3 linked regions of the Homo sapiens genome follow. The protein of the gene in region 3 interacts with the protein of the main gene of each other region in a pairwise test. Each region holds a gene or a part of one and is shown on either strand. Other genes may lie near its edges.

The links. Proteins that work in one complex are often made in the same cells at the same time.
Region 1: the proteins of SAPCD2 (region 3) and BFSP2 interact in binary tests that used the Homo sapiens proteins (3 or more experiments, as listed by UniProt).
Region 2: the proteins of SAPCD2 (region 3) and GPRASP2 interact in binary tests that used the Homo sapiens proteins (3 or more experiments, as listed by UniProt).

What each region holds. Positions count from the first base shown.
Region 1 is NC_000003.12:133,471,733-133,476,999, forward strand, and holds the end of BFSP2 (phakinin), read left to right. Parts: intron 1-612; coding exon 613-833; coding exon of another isoform or gene 834-837; intron 838-3,236; coding exon 3,237-3,240; 3' UTR 3,241-3,476; downstream 3,477-5,267.
Region 2 is NC_000023.11:102,714,125-102,719,524, reverse strand, and holds the end of GPRASP2 (G-protein coupled receptor-associated sorting protein 2), read right to left. Parts: intron 5,337-5,400; 5' UTR 5,259-5,336; intron 5,117-5,258; exon of another isoform or gene 4,989-5,116; 5' UTR 4,656-4,988; coding exon 2,139-4,655; 3' UTR 1,792-2,138; downstream 1-1,791. Other genes in the region: ARMCX5-GPRASP2 (G-protein coupled receptor-associated sorting protein 2), read right to left, coding at 2,139-4,655. UniProt on the Homo sapiens protein: May play a role in regulation of a variety of G-protein coupled receptors.
Region 3 is NC_000009.12:137,066,691-137,076,123, forward strand, and holds the start of SAPCD2 (suppressor APC domain-containing protein 2), read right to left. Parts: upstream 3,868-9,433; 5' UTR 3,771-3,867; coding exon 3,200-3,770; intron 3,104-3,199; coding exon of another isoform or gene 3,014-3,103; intron 1-3,013. UniProt on the Homo sapiens protein: Plays a role in planar mitotic spindle orientation in retinal progenitor cells (RPCs) and promotes the production of symmetric terminal divisions. Negatively regulates the mitotic apical cortex localization of GPSM2.

The sequences.
Region 1 (5,267 bases), on a different chromosome or scaffold from region 3:
CAAAGTGAAGGGACGGCAGAGGAAAAGGGATGGGCAAAAATGTGCTACTAAAACACCAAAGGGGAAAGCGCTGAGTATATAAAGGCCAGAGACATTCATTCTAAGGACAGTGATCTGGGAAAGAAAGCTGGAGGAGATGGTGTTCCAGCCAAATGATGGATGGGGTTTCAGCAGCAGAGGGAGAAGGGGTCCCCCGGGGAGTGAAGAAATCAGAAGAAAAAGCCCCGGAGAACAAGATTTCTTTGAAGAAACGCCTGCAAGCTGCCTCTCATTTGTCTCTCTCAATCCCTATCCCTCTTGCCCCGCTCCTCTCTCTCCTCACACCCCCTTTCTTTTCTCCCTCCCTCTCTCCTTCTCTTTTTCGCCTCCCTCACCCTCTCTCCCATCAAAAAGATCAATCAGACTAATCCACAGTCTGACCTGAGTGGGATTCCTTATTTTTCCCACGGAGCCACTAAGAATAACCCCCATCAGTCTCCATAACTGGCAAGGTCCCTGCCACGAGGGGAATAGTCCAGGCTACCACCAGCCCCTGCCACTGCTCTGCACACCTCCCTCTTCAAGGGCCCGGCCTGTTGTCCTCGGGTTTGGACCGGGTTCGCTCTTTTGTAGAAACGAGGCCTGGAGAACACCTTGCACGATGCCAAGCACTGGCATGACATGGAGCTCCAGAACCTGGGCGCTGTGGTCGGCCGGCTGGAGGCGGAGCTCAGGGAAATCCGAGCGGAGGCGGAGCAGCAGCAACAGGAGCGCGCGCATCTGCTGGCCCGCAAGTGCCAGCTGCAGAAGGACGTGGCGTCCTACCACGCCCTGCTGGACAGGGAGGAGAGCGGGTAAGCCTCGCTTCCGCGTCAATTATCCAAGAGATGCATATTCATGGCTTTAAAAATAATTATTTTCCAAACACTGTAGAAGTATTTAAGAAGAAATCACCCCAGACTTCCTCTCACATAGGCACCCATTCCCACAGCCTAGCTGTGTCCTTCCTTTCCTATTCACATACAAATAATATATATAATATATTCACATACTAATACATTTTCTATATGTATGCATATTTATGTATGTATATATACACACATACATTCACATACATGTGTATACCTAGGACGTACATAATAGCTGTTAGGAATGTTTCAGTTGCTTGTAATAGAACCTAATTAATGAGGCTATAAACCAGTGCTCCTGAAACTAATGTGCACTCAAAACCCTGCGCATCTTTTTTTTTTTTTTGGATACAGGGTCTCGTCTCGGTATGTTGCCCAGGCTGGTCTCGACTCAAACCCCTGGGCTCAAGTGATCCTCTCACCTAAGCCTCCAGAATAGCTGGGGTTACAGGTGTGAGCCGTGACACCCCAGCTGGGCATCTTTTTTAAATGCAGATTCTGCTTCAGTACGTCTGGGGTGGGGTCTGAGAGTCTTCCTTTCTAACAAGCTCCCAAGTGATGACTATACTGCTGCTCCACAGACTACACTCTGAGTAGCAAAGATGTGTAAATCATTTATTTAAGAGTCCCAGAAACAGGTGATCTAGGCTGCTCAAAGATTTCATTAAGGACTCAAGCTCTTTTCATCTTTCTAACATACCATGACAACATTGGCTTTTTGTCTTTATCTTTGTCACCCCATGGTTACCATATGCCAGCCACAGATCCAAACATCACATCCTCATTCCTGGCCGGAAGTGGGAGAGAAGAGGCAGCAGCAAAAAAAAAAAAAAAAAAAAAGGCTTTTTCTTTTTTTTTATTGATCATTCTTGGGTGTTTCTCGCAGAGGGGGATTTGGCAGGGTCATAGGACAATAGTGGAGGGAAGGTCAGCAGATAAACAAGTGAACAAAGGTCTCTGGTTTTCCTAGGCAGAGGACCCTGCGGCCTTCCGCAGTGTTTGTGTCCCTGGGTACTTGAGATTAGGGAGTGGTGATGACTCTTAACGAGCATGCTGCCTTCAAGCATCTGTTTAACAAAGCACATCTTGCACCGCCCTTAATCCATTTAACCCTGAGTGGACACAGCACATGTTTCAGAGAGCACAGGGTTGGGGGTAAGGTCACAGGTCAACAGGATCCCAAGGCAGAAGAATTTTTCTTAGTACAGAACAAAATGAAAAGTCAAAAGGCTTTTTCTTGAATGATCCTCTCCTTTAATCAGTGAAGGAAAGACATTTTGAGGCTTGCAGTGGACTGTCCCTTATATCTCATTGGCCAGAACCTGCTTATACTGGCCATACCCATCTGCAAGGGAGGCTAAGAAAGCAACTCTTTAGCTTTTCCAGACTCCATAGTGGAGGCAGGCAAGGGGTTGGGACTAGGAGTTGAGTTAGTCTGCCATAATTACACACACACACTTGCACTCACTCTTTTTTTAATAGATAAGGATTCCAGAGGCATATACATCAGCCTTGGGCCTTAGCTTCCTTGCCAACTCTTTCCAGAAACCCAGGCCCTTATTTTGTATCATAGTTCTATGCCTTCTTATTTCCCTCCAAGACTCCTTGTCTGACATATGTTGAATAAGGAATAGAGACAGCTTAGTGATTGTATCATCCAACCCCTCCTGATTCAAGAGAGAACACAAAGACCCAGAATGGAAAAAGATTTGCGCATGATCACACAGGAGGCGGAGACAGCACTGGGATGGGAGCCCAGGTCTCCTGCTCTCTCCAACTGTGTAACCTCTCTTTATTCAGAAGGCGGGAGAGCCTCAAGGAAGCGACCTAACCACGCCCTGCTTTCAAATGGAAAATATGTCATCCAGCTCCTCTCCAACTGTCTTTTATTGAATTGATTTTTGTTGATTATAAAAGCCAGATGTTCCTAACAAAGTATTTTTTTTTCAGATGCCTATGAGCATCTGTATAAACACACAAAGTCAATTTAAACAAACAGCAAGAGCAGTGAGTTAGGCCGAGTTACTTCTTAAGAATCTATGTGCTACGTTCATTTAGTGAGTGCCAAGGCAGACCTGACTCTTGATTATTTTTGTTTATCCTCCAAACCCTGCCAAGACAACCTCATGATCCGTGTTTTAGAGACAGGAAACAAAGCCTCAGAGAGCTTAAGTCATGGCCCAAGGTCTCACAGCAAATAACCATGGAGTAATTATTTAAAACCCAAAACTATCTTGTTCCAAAGGCCAGATTCTTTCATGAGATGGCCCCCTTTCTCGTAATCCTATTGTGATAGAATGACCGATTTTCCTCACCCATTGCTTCTGACTCCTATGTGTTTCCTTTCAGCTGATGGAGAAACTTCCTCTTTTTCATGAAGAAAACACCCTTCCTCAACAGCTGACCCAAGAAGTTGCTTGAGGAGCTTTCTCCTGAGCTCCAGTCCCTGCTGGATTCCCTGGTTAATTCAGCTTGAGCTGAAAAGCTTCCTGGAAGTGGAGAGGATCCTTCTGCTTTAATCTGAGTAGTCTGTAGCTTGAGCAATCTCCCTTGTCCTCCTTCAAATAAATGCTTTGTGCGCAGCGTCCAGTTTGCCCACCTTGTTCAACTCACTATAGGGTCGAGATGGATATCACTTTGTCTGTCTGGCCTTTGCTCACAGAGCTATGCTTGAAGGCTTCTGGAAGGATTCCCTTGAGTGTGACGCCATCTGCCTCCCTAGGGTCACCTGCTCTTGGGTTTGTCAACATAAAAGTGCTGCGGAGGCAAAAGCAGTGCTCATGGCATGCAGGATTGACGCAGTCTGGGACAAAAAACAACACTCTTGCTCGAGAGGGGATTAGTGTGGTGCTTTATCACATGTTTCATAATTACAGGCATCGTGGAGTATTCAGACCTCTTTAATATACTCTGCATGCATATTCATGTGCAGACACACACATTTCACTTGCTATTGGCAGAGCATCTCTCAATCAGTTAAAAGGGAACTTCAATCTAAGCCCAATCTAAACCCATTCAATCTAAGTGGGGGATTAATTACACTGTGGTTGCTCACCCCACTTACAGCCTCAGAATTTTCTTCCAGGGTCCTTTCTCCAGTTCTCTCAGGGCCTAAGCCAGCCAAATATAGTTCATGCATCTGCCACCTACCCAGGCAAGACTCTCTTGCCTTCTGATTAAAATTGAAACCACCACCTGTGTCCTACCACAGGTTCTCAGTGTCTCTAAAACTGAAAGGAAAAAAAAAAAAAAAAAAAGCCCAACTTTAATTTTGTCATTCCTCCCTCAAACTTCTGTTGGTCTACCTATCACACAGAATTACAGACCAAAATATCCAAGCTGAGTCTTTGTGTTTGTGAGCTGCTAATCCAGACAGGGGGATGTATCCAACACTGGTACATTTGAAAACCCCCATACCCGAGGGTCCAAATAACCAAGGCCCACACAAAGAAAAGAACATTTATTTATCCTTAAGGATTGCTTATAAGAGAAGCAAGGTGGCCAGGCGCGGTGGCTCATGCCTGTAATCCCAGCACTTTGGGAGGCCAAGGTGGGCAGATCACAAGGTCAGGAGTTCGAGACCAGCCTGGCGAATATGGTGAAACCCCGTCTCTACTAAAAATACAGACGTTAGCCAGGCTTGGTGGCGGGCGCCTGTAGTCCCAGCTACTCAGGGGGCTGAGGCAGAAGAATCGTTTGAACCCAGGAGGCGGAGGTTGCAGTGAGCCGAGATTGTGCCACTGCACTCCAGCCTGGGCAACAGAGCAAGACTATCACACAAAAAAAATAAATAAATAAAAGGCAAGATATATGGTATCCTGGTTGGAATTGCTACAACTGGTTTTCCTTTTTGGCCTGCAAGAGCAAAGGAATTGTATTAAAGATCACATGAGCAGAACCACTATTTACAATGTGCATAGCCCCTTGACATAGGTCAGTTTGTTGTTTGAGACATGGAAATAGGCAAGACACCCTAAAACTACATTTTAGCAAAGTATCCATCTCCATAGCTGCACACTATGGGGCTGCCCATAATTGAACCGCCTGGGTACAAGAGTCTTGCCAGAAAACAAAGTGGGTGGCTGGCCTTGCTATGTTGGATGCACAAGACACTGACGTCTGTTTCTTTTCTGTCTTTCTTGTTACTATTAATTTTTGGTCCCTCAGGCAAGACCTAAATTCCTAACCTAAATGTAGCTGGAGGCTTCAAAGGTGACAGTCCCCAAAAGGTCAGCCATCAAAAGGAGGTACTTCTATGACCGAATGGCCATGCAGTTTTTAGAACCTGGAAGTCGTTTCAGCCACTGGAAAGACGGGAGAATGTATCTGCGCATCCTCCTGAGTTTCCACCAGACAGCATGCTGTGCAGGGCTGCACACA
Region 2 (5,400 bases), on a different chromosome or scaffold from region 3:
AGGTGCCATTTTTGTACCATGAACAGACTAATATTAAACTTAACACCCTTGGTAATTTTTTTTTTTTTTGAGACGGAGTTCTGCTCTGTCACCCAGGCTGTAGTGCAGTGGTGCGACCTCAGCTGACTGCAACTTCTGCCCCCCAGGCTCAAGCGACTCTCCTGCCTCAGCCTCCCCAGTAGCTGGGATTACAGGCGCACACCACCATGCCTGGCTAAGTTTTTGTATTTTTACTAGAGACAGCATTTCGCTATGTTGGCCAGGCTGGTCTCGAACTCCTGACCTCAAGTGATCCACCCACCTCAGCCTCCCAAAGTGCTGGGATTACAAGCGTGAGCCACCGCGCCTGGCCCACCCTTGATTATTTTATTTTATTTTATTTTTTTTGAGACAAGGTCTCACTCACATCACCCATGCTGGAGTGCAGTGGTGTGACTATGACTGACTGCAGCCTCAACTTCCTAGGCTCAAGTGATTCTCCTACCTCAGCCTCCTGAGTAGCTAGGACAAGTGCGTGCCACCATGCTGGGCTAATTTTTTTTATTTTTAGTAGAGACAAGGCATCAATATGTTGCCCAGGCTGGCCTTGAACTCTTGAGCTCAAGCAATCCTTCCGCTTCGGCCTCCCAAAGGGCTGGGATTACAGGTGTGAGCCACTGTGCCTGGCCAATTTTAATTTTTATCTTGAAAACGTTTTATAAAAAGCTAGTCTTTCTGATAGCTCATTCATTTACAACTTTTCTAAATGATATTATCTCTAATCATTTTTTAACACTTATAGTTTATTCATTTATATAATTCTGTCCTTTCCGGCATGCTCATCTATAACTCAAGGCACAAAATGTAAGCATATTAATTTTTTAATTTGTCTTATTAATGTTTGTATCTCCCCAACGCCTGTCTCTAAGCATTTTTTAACAAGGTATATATTTTATTCCAGACTGTGTTTAGAAATTCATATTGAAATTGCATAGGAATTGTGTACATTTACAGATGTTTTAAAAATGGAATCTAATTTTCCATACATGATGTCACATTCTCTGTTTCACCAAATATAAAATAATTAATGTCCTTTTGTGTCAATAAACCTATCCATACATAATCATTCCAACGGCTGCATGGTATTTCCTTAACACTTTCCTTTGTCTAGGAATATAAAGGAAATCATATTCCCCACTCCATTTAATTGTGCTATCCTACTCTTTCAGCCTTTAGGTGGCATTGAAGTAACACCTGTACTTTGAATTGTTAAATATGCAGATTTGGCTTATTCTGTTCCCCAAATTGGCCTCTTCCCAACTTTCTAACTGCATTTCTCATCAAACTCCTTTTACTTGTTTCAAGCAGACTGGGTTCATCCATGCTACTAGAACAGATTATTCAATTACACACTTTTCTTCAAACCACCACTGCCCACTTCCAAGAGCAACCTAATGATTTGTCTTATCCTACCCTTAGGCAAATCCCAGGGCTAAGATGGTAATTTAAATGGGTCCTATAAGAAGTATTAATTTTAGGTTGCTTGTTGGGAAGGCTCATAATTGGGCAAGCAGGCGGGCAAGTTGTCTTGCTCTCCTATCCTGACCAATTTGTTCTATCCTGACCAATTTAAGTGGGTCCCTCTTCTCGGAAACATTCCTCAAGTATCAGGGCCCACAATAATCTCTCCCTTCTTAACTCAAGAACAGAATTTTCTAATAAGCGCATGTTTGTCATACTAATAATTACCTATGTTTGTAAGTGCACACGATTTATCTGTACATGGTTCTTAAACTGAAGAAGGGTCACTTATGCCAATTTTAACATAGAACTTTATTGAAAACACAGACTCAAATAGAGAACCATATATTTAAACAACGAATAGCAGGGTAGCTTACTTAGGTGACACAGTTCATTGAAAACTTAATACTGAAAAATACCGCAATCTGGACAGCAAGACAAATATCAACAAATGTGTTTTCAGTTTTGATATTCATTTGGCATCCACAAAATGATCCAGCTCAAAACAAGAGTTTGACAAAGTTAACATCAGCATTAAAAAATATAAGTTACAACAAAAAAACAGACTGTGAACACCAAAGCACTACTCAGGGCTCTTTGGGAACATAAGGCTGATCAGCGGCAGGTGGTTAATCATATTAACTTTGTTGTCCCACCTCAGGATCATTTTGGTTGTCTATTTGGGCTTGTAGTTGCTTAGCTAACTCCTCAAATTCACGAAATGCAGAAATAAGCGGCTCAAGACTGAAATCATCATCAATTAAGGACATCTTTCCACTTTTTATAATGTTACTGATATTCTGAAACATTTTAATAACAATTTGAATATTATCATTTGTCTCTTCTATGTTAAAGAGACCCACAAATATTGAAAGAGCTTTGGCACTGAATAGTTTTTTTGCCACAGCAGGATTTTCAGACAAATTCAATAGCATTTTCAGAACGTGAAACTTCGTTCTCGCATTGGCTGTGGTTAATAAGGAGAGAAACCCGGACATATAGTTGGCAATCAGTGTGTGATAGTCAATAGTCATAGTGAGGTGTCTAAGCATCCTTATTCCAGTCAGCTGCTCAAGGGAATCCACACTATGTGCAAGGGTTTCCTCACACACTTGACATATGAATGTCTCAATCATGTTTAGATTTGGATAAGGTGGAGCCATGTGAATCATATTTTCCAAAAAACTTGTCCTAACTCTAGAGGATGGATAATTAAGCAAGGTTTCAATAAGTGAGACAACACCTGAATCTCGAATGAAATCTCGGGTAAATTGAGAAGCACTTCTCATACCCATTGCAATTTTAGATATTTCATGAATAAAAGGATCCCGAATTTTGTCCATTAATAAAAGGAATTCTTCAAACTCTTCAGAACCAATTTTCAGCTCACATTGTATGCAGCTGCAGGACCAACTCTCAGACTCTGCACTCTCCCTGGCCCTAAGATGCTCTCGAATTTCCCGGACTGACCGGTAGGAAGGATCATACTGAAATGTGAACTCAGGACTAGGCTGATCAGGCTGAAGCAAAGATTCCTGCTCTTCTCCTTCTGGGCTAAGTTCCAGGTTCTTGGGCTTTGCCTCAAGCATTTCAGAAGCCTCTTCGGGAATTCCAAAGGGGCTTGTGGATCGGAAGCCAACCCCATGAAAAAGACCAGGTTTGAATTCAACAGTGACCTCGTCCCAGGTTTGGGGCCTGGAGGATGCATTAAGCTCCTCAGCTGCATCTCTGAACCTATCACTGACCTTGTACACAGGACAGGGATTTAGGTCAAAGCAGGCCTCATCTCTGTCCCAGAACCAGGACCCAAATATGGCCTCTTCTTCAGACTCCGGCTTGGCCTCTTCTCTGGCCACAGCCCCCAAACTGGACTTTTCCTCAGCCCAGTACGCGGATCCGCCAATGGCCCCCTCCTCAGTTCCTGGCTCAGATTCACAGATTGCTGAAGCTCCACCCTCCAAACTGGCCTCTTTTTCTGCCCAGAACCAGGACCCAATAATGACTTCCTCCTCAAACCTGGGTTCTTGTTTGACCCTATCACTGTCAACATCTTTCTGGGCCCTGAGTTTCAAGGCAGTATTAGGATCTTCTTTGTCTCTGTGCCTGAATCTACTATTGGCCTCTTCTCCAGGCAAAACCCAGGACTGCTTATAGAACTCATCTTCAGACTCAGATTCAAAACAATCTTCTCTATTTGTCCTGAGCTTGGACCTGATATTTGCCTCCTCCCTGACTCTGGGCCTGAACAAGTTATTGGTATTTTCTCCAACCCAGAAGGAGAATGGGTTGCTGGCCTCATCCTCAGATCCAGACCAGGAATCAACATAGGCTTCTTGCTTGGATCTGGGCCTGGACCTGGGATTAGTCTGATGTTTAGCCCTGTGCCTGGACCTGGTATTGGACTCTTCCCTGGGCCATGATCTGACACTTGTCTCTTCTCCAGTCCAGAAAGAAGACGCTGTAGAGGTCTCATCTGCTGACCAGAACCCAGACTCATTAGAGGCCTCCTCTCTGGCCCTGGGCCTGGAATAGCACCAAGACCCCATATTAGTCTCCTCCCCTGGTCCAAACCAGGGCTGGATTCCTTTCTGACCCTGGGTGCCAGGAAAGGTTTCAGCATCCACATTGACTAGTTCTCTATCCATAGACAGGCCCTTAGATTTAGTAACTGATCCAGACTCAGCAGTGGCCAGTGGCCAAGCAACGGCATTAGTCTGGGACACTCCTTCTGCCTGTGACACTGCTTCAGTCCCAAATTCACTCTGGGCCCATGCCTGGGCCTCATCCTTGGGCCTTGCTCCAGGGATTGCCTTGGCATCAGTTTTAGAACGAGCGCCACCTACTGCCCTGGCATCGGTTTTGGGCCTGGCCCCTGTGATTCCTTGAGCCTCCGTTTTGGGTCTTGCACCACCCATTACTTGGACCTCAGTTTTGGGCCTTGCCCCAGACATTGCTTGGGCCTCAGTTTTGGGCCTTGCCGCAGGCACAGACTTGGTCTCAGTTTTGGGCCTTGCCCCAGTAGTTGCCTGGGTCCTAACCTTGGGTCTGACCACCAGAGGGACATCATTCTCTCTCTCAGGCCCAGCGATAACCTCTTCCCCAGCCTTCTTTTCAGGCTTGGCCTGGGCACTAGGCTCAATCTCTGCCCCAGTCATGGTACAAGTTACAAAGAAAGTCAGGTAATATACTCCTCCCGTAGTCTAAACCTCAACCACAGATCTGTCACAGGTTTGTTTCTTCACACTCTGATCTTTAGGTGATTAAGGATATAAGCTTGGGAATAAGAGTTAGAGTCAATATCCAGTCCAGTAGTCACTCAGCCTCCTTCCCAAACACAGTCTCAGTCAATAATTCAATAATACAGATAGAGTGAGAACAGGTACAACCAAGCTAAAGGAAGACAGATATTTCCTGGATGGGTGCAGACCCGTTGAGGGTGGTTGTCAGCAGCAACTCCACCACCAGCAGAGCAGCCACTGGAGGTGGATCTAGGGAGAGAGAATGAAATGAGGCTTTGAGTCTCTTCCAATTGTATGAGACGTATGCAGTGCGACTGATGTTGAATGCTAGGTGGGACAGCTGGGCTTTGAGAAAGTCTCTCTGGACCGGCTGCCTCCTACAAAACAGGTCCAACAATGGTGGGAAAGTGTGTCGGCAATGGGAGGGGCCAAGAAGCCCCCAGATTGGACCCTAATCACTCCCGGACCCATGCTGGTCTCCACTACCCCGCCCAAAAGTATACCCGCTCTCATACCAACCTTCACTGATGTGGTGCAGTTTCCCCCTCCTTTTCTTGTTCAAGTGGTGTCAAGCCCCACAGCTGACAGAAGGGGGTCCTACAGACAAGTGAACATACAGGAGAGAATGGAGTGTGAGTGCTTGGTAGGTAGGTGGGCACTC
Region 3 (9,433 bases):
TGGCAGGCACACCCTGGGTCTCCAAGGCAGCTGGGTAAGGGAGGAGTGGGCGGGGGGGTTCTGGTCCTGACTACGCCTCTCCCATCTGCACGGGGTCCTGCAAGGCAGCAGGAGATGTGGGTGTGAATGACGGAAACCTAACTTTTCCCAGGATGGTGACTCTGATAGAAAGTTAGTCCCGCATGGCCGGGCACAGTGGCTCACGCCTGTAATCCCAGCACTTTTGGGGACCAAGGCGGGTGGATCGCTTGAGCTCAGGAGTTTGAGACCAGCCTGGGCAACATGGCAAAACCCCATTTCTTCCTTTTTTTCTTGAGACGTTGTTTTGTTCCTGTTGCCCAGGCTGGAGTGCAATGGTATGATCTTGGCTCACTGCAACCTCCGCCTCCCAGGTTCAAGTGATTCTCCGGTCTCAGCCTCCCGAGTAGCTGGGATTACAGACACCCACTACCATGCCCAGCTACTTTTTGTATTTTTTAGTAGAGATGAGGTTTCACCATGTTGACCAGGCTGGTCCTGAACTCCTGACCTCAGGTGATCCACCCACCTCAGCCTCCCAAAGTGCTGGAATTACAGGCGTGAGCCACTGTGCCCGGCCGGCAATACCCCATTTCTATTAGAAACACAAAAATTAGCCTGGTGCAGTGGCATGCACCTGTGGTCCCGGCTACTCAGGAGCCTGAGGCAGGAGGATTGCTTGAGCCTGGGAGGCAGAGGTTCCACTGAGCCCAGATTGCGCCACTGCACTCCAGGCTGGGCAACACAGCAAAACTTTGTCTCAAAAAAAAAAAAGATCCCTTGCCGGGCACGGTGGCTCACACCTGTAATCCCAGCACTTTGGGAAGCTGGGGCGGGGGGGGATCAGTTGAGGTCAGGAGTTCAAGACCAGCCTAGCCAACATGGTGAAACCCTGTCTCTACTAAAAATACAAAAATTAGCAGGGCGTGGTGGCATGCACCTGTAATCCCAGCTACTCGGGAGGCTGAAGCAGGAGGATCGCTTGAACCCAGGAGGCGGAGGTTGCAGTGAGCTGAGATTCGCGCCACTGCACTCCAGCCTGGGCGACAGAGCAAGACTCCATCTCAAAAAAAAAAAAAAAAAAAAAAAAAAAAGTCCCGCGTGTGTGATACGCCAGGCGGTGCACCCAACTGACAAGTCAGGCACGTCCTGGTGCTCACAGACCCCTGCTCTGAAGTTTGTTTGAGGGCTCCCCCTGGGGGCAGCCAAGAGTATCGCGTTGGTGCCACTCCGGCCCAGCTTCCTGGTGAGGGAGTAGGTGCACCTCCCCAGGCTACAGAAGTGGGTACAGGTGTGGAGGAAGGCATCCTCCTTCGGCCTCCAGCTGTAGCCCCAGCACCAGGCACATCCTTAGAGGCCATGCCCCTGGCACCTGGCCACAGGAGTCAGGGAGTGATGCAAGAATTGGGCCCAGGTAGGCACGGCAGAGAGCCTGGCTCCAGGCAGGCCCGAATTCGCACTCCAGCCTGCGGTGCTGAGCGGCTGGCAGCTCTGGGGCAAGACAGTGGAAGAGCACACAGCCCTTCAGGAGGTGGGAGCAGAGAGGGTACAGACAGAGGGAGGCCATAGAGGAAGTCCCAGGACACCTGGGCCCGGTCTGTACAGTTGAGTCCATAGAGCAGCTCCTGGGTCCCCAGATAGCAGCGTGCTGGGTGATGAGCTAGATGGCCTCTAGGTGGGGGTGGTGGCTCTGCCCCTCCAGGGCCCTGAGCCAGCAGGCCACACCTCCAGGGCCACAGCCAGCCTGGAGCAAACACGCAGTCCCAGGTGGGAACAAGGAAAGAGGCCCTGAACATCTGGGCTGGGGGCTTGGAAGGCTGTGTGTGTTGGCAGGCTTTCTGGGAGTTGGGGTGACCTCAGAGCTCCAGATTTGACACCCCAAAAGCCAGCTGTGTCAATCAAATATGTCACGCCATTTGTCTGGCCCTCCGTTTGCCTGTGAGAGGGTGACAGCTACAGCCCTAGCCATGTGGCCTTCAGGGAGATGTGGTACGTGAGCCAGTGCCGCATGGGGCATCAGAGCAGAGCAGGGGTGGACCACAGGCTTAGGCCTCCAAACCCCAGGCCCGGCCACAGCGTGCAATCCCATGGCTGATTTCAAACTGCATGGCCACATGGATGACGCTGACCCTGCATTTGGAGCCAGATACCCTCTGAAGGTTCCCTCACCATAGAACTAGGGGTCCCCCAGCCTGGTGTGGCTGCTGGATCAGATCACCAGGGAGGCCAGGGCCGCCGTGGCTCCAAACACCAGCTGTAGGGCTGGAGAATATGGCTGAGGTGGGGGAGCAGTACAGGGAGGGTGGCAGAGCAGCAGGCAGCACAGGGACCGGCAGGAGCCACCGGTGGGCAGGCCTCCCCTGGCAGAACGGGTGCACAGGCCGAATGGGCTGTGGGGCCTGGGGCCCCTCTGGGAGCTTGGCCCCCCAACCCCAGCCATAATACAGGTCCTGTTCCCAAGGCAGGCACTGGGTTGGGGGAGACAGGGGACCATTCAGCAATCTCCCATCACTGCCAACTGGACCGGAAGGCAGGAGAGGAGTGTGCCAGCCATCCCCAGGGACTACGGCCTATGTCCCTCCATGGCATCTGCCATAGTACAGCCCCACTGGGGTGCAGGAGATCCACCCACGCCCCTGCCCATCTTGGCAACAGGGCCAGGTCCTCTTGGGCCACCAGCAGCAGCCCCCGCCTGCCTAGGCCTCAGTGGGGTCAGTGGGCCCAGCCCCCCTGGCTAAGCTGTCACACTGAGAAGGGGGACCCTTTCTTTGAGAAGGAAGCACTTCTGCCTGAGCAGCCACAGACAGGAGGCTGAGGGCCCAGGTGTCCCCAGGTGCGGAAAGGGTATTGGAGATGGAGAGCCCAAGCTCAGGCTTGGTACAGGTTGGGCTCCCGGTGGGTTTTCTGAGTCACCTGCCACCCCCCGGCCCTGGTGGCCTTATGCTGTGGCAGGAGAGGGTCTGGCTTGCCTCCCTAAGCAAGCCCCTGGGCTCACCGCGACAAGCATGAAGCCCTTTCCCTCCAGACCCGCCGAGGCGCCCTCCAGGATCCGGAGTCCACGAAGAGCCGCTCCCCGGTCCCGTCCCTTGTGGGAAATGCACGGGCAGCAGCTGTGGGACTGCGGTTTCTGGCCCGGGCCCGGGAGAGCTACGAGGGTGCCCGGGGGCCGTCCGGAACTCACCTGCGTCCGCGCTGGAGCTCGGTTCCAGCGCCGCGCTCTGGGACCGCTCGGGCTCCGCGGGGCAGGGCGCCGCCTCAGCCGGGGCGCACAGCTGCTCCGGGCTGCGGGCGGCGGCGCTGGGACCGGCCAGAGGGGCGCGCACGCCCAGGGGCAGGGGCTTCCTCTCCAGGACCGTCCGCGGCTCGTCGGCCGGAGCGAACACCAGGCGCTGCGGCGGCGGCGGCGGCTGATCCCCGGGCCGGGCCGGGGCGCGCGTGGGGTCCCGGGGGCCGCCGTCGGCGCTCAGCAGGGAGGTGCGCAGGCCGGCCACGAAGCGCTCGAAGGTCAGGTAGCCGCTGGCCGGGGCCACCTGGCGCAAGCCCTCCAGCACCCCGCGGGGCAGCTCCCGCGCGTCGGTGCCCTGCCAGCGGGACTCGATCTCGCGCAGGTGCACGCAGCCGCGCCGCCGGTCGTCCAGGATGTCGAACAGGGTGCGCAGGCTCTGCAGGAAGGCGCGCGGCAGCCCCTCCGTGCTGGGCGCGGGTGCGGGGGGAGGCACGCGGCCCCGCTCGGCCATGGCGGCCCCGGCCATGGGCGCCCGGGATCGGTCCCCTCGTCCACCCGCGTGCGTCCCAGCGCGGCCCCACGGAGGGGCCGGCCCGGCGAGCTCAGCCCACGGCGACAATAGCGACTACTTTTGAATGGGGCCCTCCTCGCGGCGTCAGCCCTCATTAACATGCGCCGCGGCCATTGGCCGAGCCCGTCCCATCTGCTCTCTGATAGGCTGAGAGGAGGTTTGATTTTTTTTTTTTTTTTCTTGCCGAGTGGCCCTGGGAGGCGCGCGGAGGCCCTGGGCAGGCGGAACCGGATCCCCCAGCTCCTGCTCCACTCTGGCCTCGCAGACCTTCCTTTCTGCCCCGCCCCAGCCCCACCAAACCTCCTGCCGCGGCCAGGCGCTTTCTCGGATCCAGCTGTGGCTGGCTGCCCCGGCCACCTCTCCAAGGGGCGGGGCCTGGCACCCTACAAAAAAACCTGTCTCCAGGTAGCCTCGTGGGGTAAGAATGGGGGGGGGCACCCCCTCCAAAGATCCCACTTTTCCCCTCTAGTTCCCTGGCCGCAAGCACAGGTGACCCTGCGGCCCCCTTCTCTTCCACCAGGAGGGCCCCAAGAGGATCGTAGGCTCCAGCCAGCTGGGCGCTTCCCACTCACAGAGGCCTTTCTGTCCCCACTGCTGCTGGCTCCTCCTCTGGTCCCTCGGGACAGTCTGGCCTGGCCTGCCTGCTGCAGAACAAAGCCACTTTCTCCTGTGTCCCCAGATCCCCATCTAGTGACCAGCTCCCTCTGCCTCTTGCTCTCCTCTCCTCCTTCCCCTGGCTGGACACCTCCTCCAGCTGCTCTCCTGGCTCCCGCAGCCCTGTCCCCCTGCCTCTGCTGTGTTTCCAGCTGGGATCTGGTCACTCTGTCTTCATTTGGTCTGTCCACATGGGAGGTGAGACCAGGCCTTAGCCTGGGTTCTAGCCCTGGGAGCCCATCTCAGGGCTGGCCAGTAGTACCCTCTAGGTTCCAGGGAGGTGTTCAGGGTGCAAACACCCTCCCCAGACAGGCCCCCAATCCGAGACTTGCCTTGGCCCTCTGCGGGTCTCCCACCCTCCCTCCTGGGCAGGCCTCAGCTGGCATACCTACCTGGGTCTCTGTCCTCAGGCCTGAGCCACTGGTGCCTGTGTCTCAAGCTGTAGAGGCATCTTCCCAGGCCAGGGAGTATCCTGGGTCCACTTCTCTTCTGGGTCACTCACTCTAAGTGGGACTCCTTCATCGTAGGGAATGCTGGAAGGACATAAGAAGCTCTGAGCCTGGAGCAGCCCATCAGAGCTTGGTCCTGTAAGCCAGCTTCCCCTTTAATGGCTGGTCTGCTCAAAAACCCAGCACGAGGCCGAGGCGGGAGGATCACTTGAGCTGGGGAGTTCAAGACCAGCCTGGGCAACATAAGGCAACCCTATTTCTACAAAAAGTTTAAAAAATTAGCCAGGCGTGGTGGTGCATGCCTGTGGTCCCAGGTATTTGGGAGGCTGAGGTGGGAGGATCCCTTGAACCCAAGAGGTTGAGGCTGCAGTGAGCTGTGATTGAGCCACTGCTCTCCATCCTGGGTGACAGAGCGAGATCTTGTCTCAAAAACAAAACAAAACAAAACAAACCAGCACAACACGCAAGCCCCCGCCCCCCCATCCCCACACCTACCCTGCTTCCAGCACACCCCTCACCGCCAGTGCCAGGCCTGGGGTCCCTGCACTCCCTCACTTCCAGGCCCCTGTGCCTGGTGGCTCTTCTACCAGGAAGGCCCTTCCCCTCTGCTCCAGGCTGACCGCACTACATCCTTCAGAACTCTGCTCTGGCCCCAGTCCCCTTCCCCCTGAAGCCTAGTTAGATAAAACACAGGGGACAGCTTTCTCCTGGCCCAGGGGGCCCTGGCTATTTGCAAGCAGGACAGGGCTCCTTCTAGGCCTGGCATTGGCCTGGCCCACAGTGGGTGCTCTGTGAATGGCACTGGGGAGCCGTATCCAGTGAAATCATATGGGAAACACCATCCTTGAGTGGGCACCAAGCCAGGCTGAGGCCTAAGGGATGGGGAAGGGCTGGGAACAGCTCAGTGGTATGGCAGGGGAGGCCAGTGTGGATGTGGAGTCGGTGGCCAGCAGTGAGCAAGGCTGCTGCAGCTCAGGACAGCGTGGCCAGCAGTGTCCAGGCCAGGCCAGCCATGGCCCCGCATGGAACTGAACCCACCGTGCAGATGAAACAAGGGCTTTTCATACCATCCAGAGCCTTGGGGGAGGCGGCCCCAGCTGGCCCTTGGTCTGTGGGCTTCTCTGTGGCCCCTGGCTGGGTATTGGAGGAAGGTATGAAAAAGACTGGAGGCCGGGCACGGTGGCTCACGCCTGTAATCCCAGCACTTTGGGAGGCCAAGGCGGGCGGATCACCTGAGGTCAGGAGTTCGAGACCAGCCTGACCAACATGGAGAAATCCCGTCTCTACTAAAAATACGAAATTAGCCGGGCATGGTGGCCCATGCCTGTAATCCCAGCTACTCGGGAGGCTGAGGCAGGAGAATAGCTTGAACCCCGGAGGTGGAGGTTGCGGTGAGCCAAGATCGCGCCATTGCACTCTAGCCTGGTCAAGAAGAGCAAAACTCCATCTCAAAAAAAAAAAAAAAAAAAGGCTGGGCACGGTGGCTCATGCCTGTAATCCCAGCACTTTGGGAGGCCAAGGCGGGAGGATCACGAGGTCTGGAGATCGAGACCATCCTGGCTAACATGGTGAAACCCCGTCTCTACTAAAAACACACACACACACAAAAAATGAGCCGGGCGTGGTGGCGGGCGTCTGTAGTCCCATCTATTCGGGAGGCTGAGGCAGGAGAATGGCGTGAATCCAGGAGGCGGAGCTTGCAGTGAGCCGAGATGGCACCACTGCACTCCAGCCTGGGCGACAGAGCGAGACTCCGTCTCAAAAAAAAAAAAAAAGACTGGAGGCTGTGCCTGGCTTTGGGCGTGGAGCTAAGATGTGGTCCTGTGTCCTTCCTGTCCTGAGCTCTGACCACTTCCTCCTTCACTCCACTTTCCGGCTGGCCTGATAGTTTCCCAATCCTTCAGGTTTTAGTGCTGTGTCACCCCTGGGGGTCCCATGCTGTCCCTGTACTTTTGGAGGCCCCATCTTAGCTGTAATTGTGTTCTCACTGTGTAAGCCTGGACCACTCTGGGCAGAGGTGGCAGGAAGACCGGCCCCTCTGTCCCCTGATGTATCCCCAGCAGTGGGCACCAAGTGAAGAACTGGCAACAGCCACCCAGCCCCTGAGCCTCCCAGGGCTCCCCGTCTGCACTCCTGGCCTCTGAGCCTTAGGGCCTTGCTCCCCTGGGCCTCTTGTGAAGACAACTGCCTGGCCACAAGGTGGTCCAGGAGGTTGCTGCCCACCTCAGCCTTGCCAGCACTCCCACCCATCCGTAGGCTCTGTCGGTCTGGGCAGGGTCGCTCCTCCCCTTCTGGTGCCGCAAGTGCCTCTGGCTGTACAAACCTTGATTTTCCAAATCTTCTATTACAGCCCAACCCACACCTTGAGGTGGGATTTGGAATCACCCTGACCTACAGGGCCAACAGTTCATGTCCTGACACCTGCCTCCAAGAGACATGTGCCTCCTCTGCTGCCCAGCCCTGCAGGGGTGATAAGGGTTCCCATGGACTCTGGCCTGGGGCGGGAAGCCTGCTCTGCTCACCGGATTCCGCGAGCCTCCCCTCCAACTCCAACGTTCACCTAAACGATGTTCAACCACCACAAACCACTGGAGCAGAACAGGCCATTCATTAATTCATTCATGCAGCAGGTACTCCCTGAACATTTGCTGTTGCCCAGTCACGGTGTGGGCTGGGGTTCAACACTCGTTTGTTCAATCAACAAACATTGATTGAGTGCCTACTGTGTGCTGCATTTACCTGAGGTGATGGGGGCAGACCACTGGCCTAAACAATGCCCTGCCTGGGCTGGGCACGGTGGCTCATGCCTGTAATCCCAACACTTTGGGAGGCCGAGGCGGGCAAATCATGGGGTCAGGAGTTCAAGACCAGCCTGGCCAACCATCGCTACTAAAAATACAAAAAATTAGCTGTGTGTGGTGGCGGGCGCCTGTAATCCCAGCTACTCAGGAGGCTGAGGCAGGAGAATCACTTGAACCCGGGAGGCGGAGGTTACAGTGAGCCGAGATTGCACCACTGCACTCCAGCCTGGGCGACAGAATGAGACACGGTCTCAAAACAAAAAACAAAACAAAACAAAAACAGCAACTCCCCGCCTTTGTGGGGTTCGCTTCTCACAGGGGAGTCAGGTAGCCAAGAATGCAGAAAGGCAGCCTGGCACGGAGGATGGGAAGGTGCTCACCGAGTGGGCGTGGCCTGGGGAGCTGAGGCCTGACCAAATGCGTCCCCAGCCACACGTTTCTCTGGGGACAAGCGGTCCAGGAGGGAGGAACAGGAAGTGCAGAGACCCTGAGGCAGGCCCGAAAAGCAACTCCATGCAGGTCCAGAAGAGTGCATGTGGGCCTTGCCCCAGGGGTGAAGCCCCCTCCCAAACTCAGTGAGGGCATGTGTGTGGAGGTGGGGGCAGAACCCAACTGCAAGGAAACACAACTGCCTGAGGGGTCCACGGGGCAGCATGAGGGAGATGTTAGTTTTCATTTTGGGTCCTAGATCACTGTCAGAGGTGTGTGAACCAGAGCAACTCCATCTTGAATGGGAGCTGGGTAAAATAAGGCTGGGGCCTACTGAGCTGCATTTCTGGATGGTTAAAGGATTCCAAGTCAGGATGACACAGGAGGTCGGCACAAGATACAGGTCACAAAGACCTTGCTGATAAAAGAGGTTCCGATAAAGAAGCCGGCCAAAACCCACCAAAACCAAGATGGCAACGACAGTGACCTCTGGTTGTCCTTGCCGCTACACTCCCACCAGCACCATGACGGTTTACAGATGCCACTGCAACGTCAGGAAGTTCCCCTATATGGTCTACAAAGGGGAGGGATGAATTATCCACTCCTTGTTTAGCATGTCATCCAAAAAAACATAACAATGGGCAACCAGCAGCCCTCAGGGCTGCTCTGTCTGTAGAGAAACCATTCTTTATTCCTTTACTTTCCTGATAACTTGCTTTTGCTTTACTGTATGGGCTTGCCCTGAATTCTTTCTTGCGCAAGATCCAAGAACCCTCTCTTGAGGTCTGGAACCTCTTTCCTGTAACAGCATGATTTGTTTTTCTTTTTCGGTTTGTTTGTTTGTTTTTTGAGACAGAGCTTCGCCCTTGTTGCCCAGGCTGGAGTGCAATGGCGCGATCTTGGCTCATGGCAACCTCCGCCTCCCAGGTTCAAGCGATTCTCCTGCCTCAGCCTCTGGAGTAGCTGGGATTATAAGCATGCAACACCATGCTTATATATTTATATTTATATTTAATATTTGTATCTATTTTTAGTAGAGACAGGGTTTCTCCATGTTAGTCAGGCTGGTCTCAAACCCCAGACCTCAGGTGATCCGCCCGCCTTGGCCTCCCAAAGTGCTGGGATTACAGAAGTGAGCCACTGCGCCCGGTTTTTTTTTTTTTTTTTTTTTTGAGACAGAGTTTCGCTCTGTCACCCAGGCTGGAGTGCAGTGGTGCGATCTTGGCTCACTGTAACCTCCGCCTCCCGGGTTCAAGTGATTCTCGTGCCTCATCCTCCCAAGTAG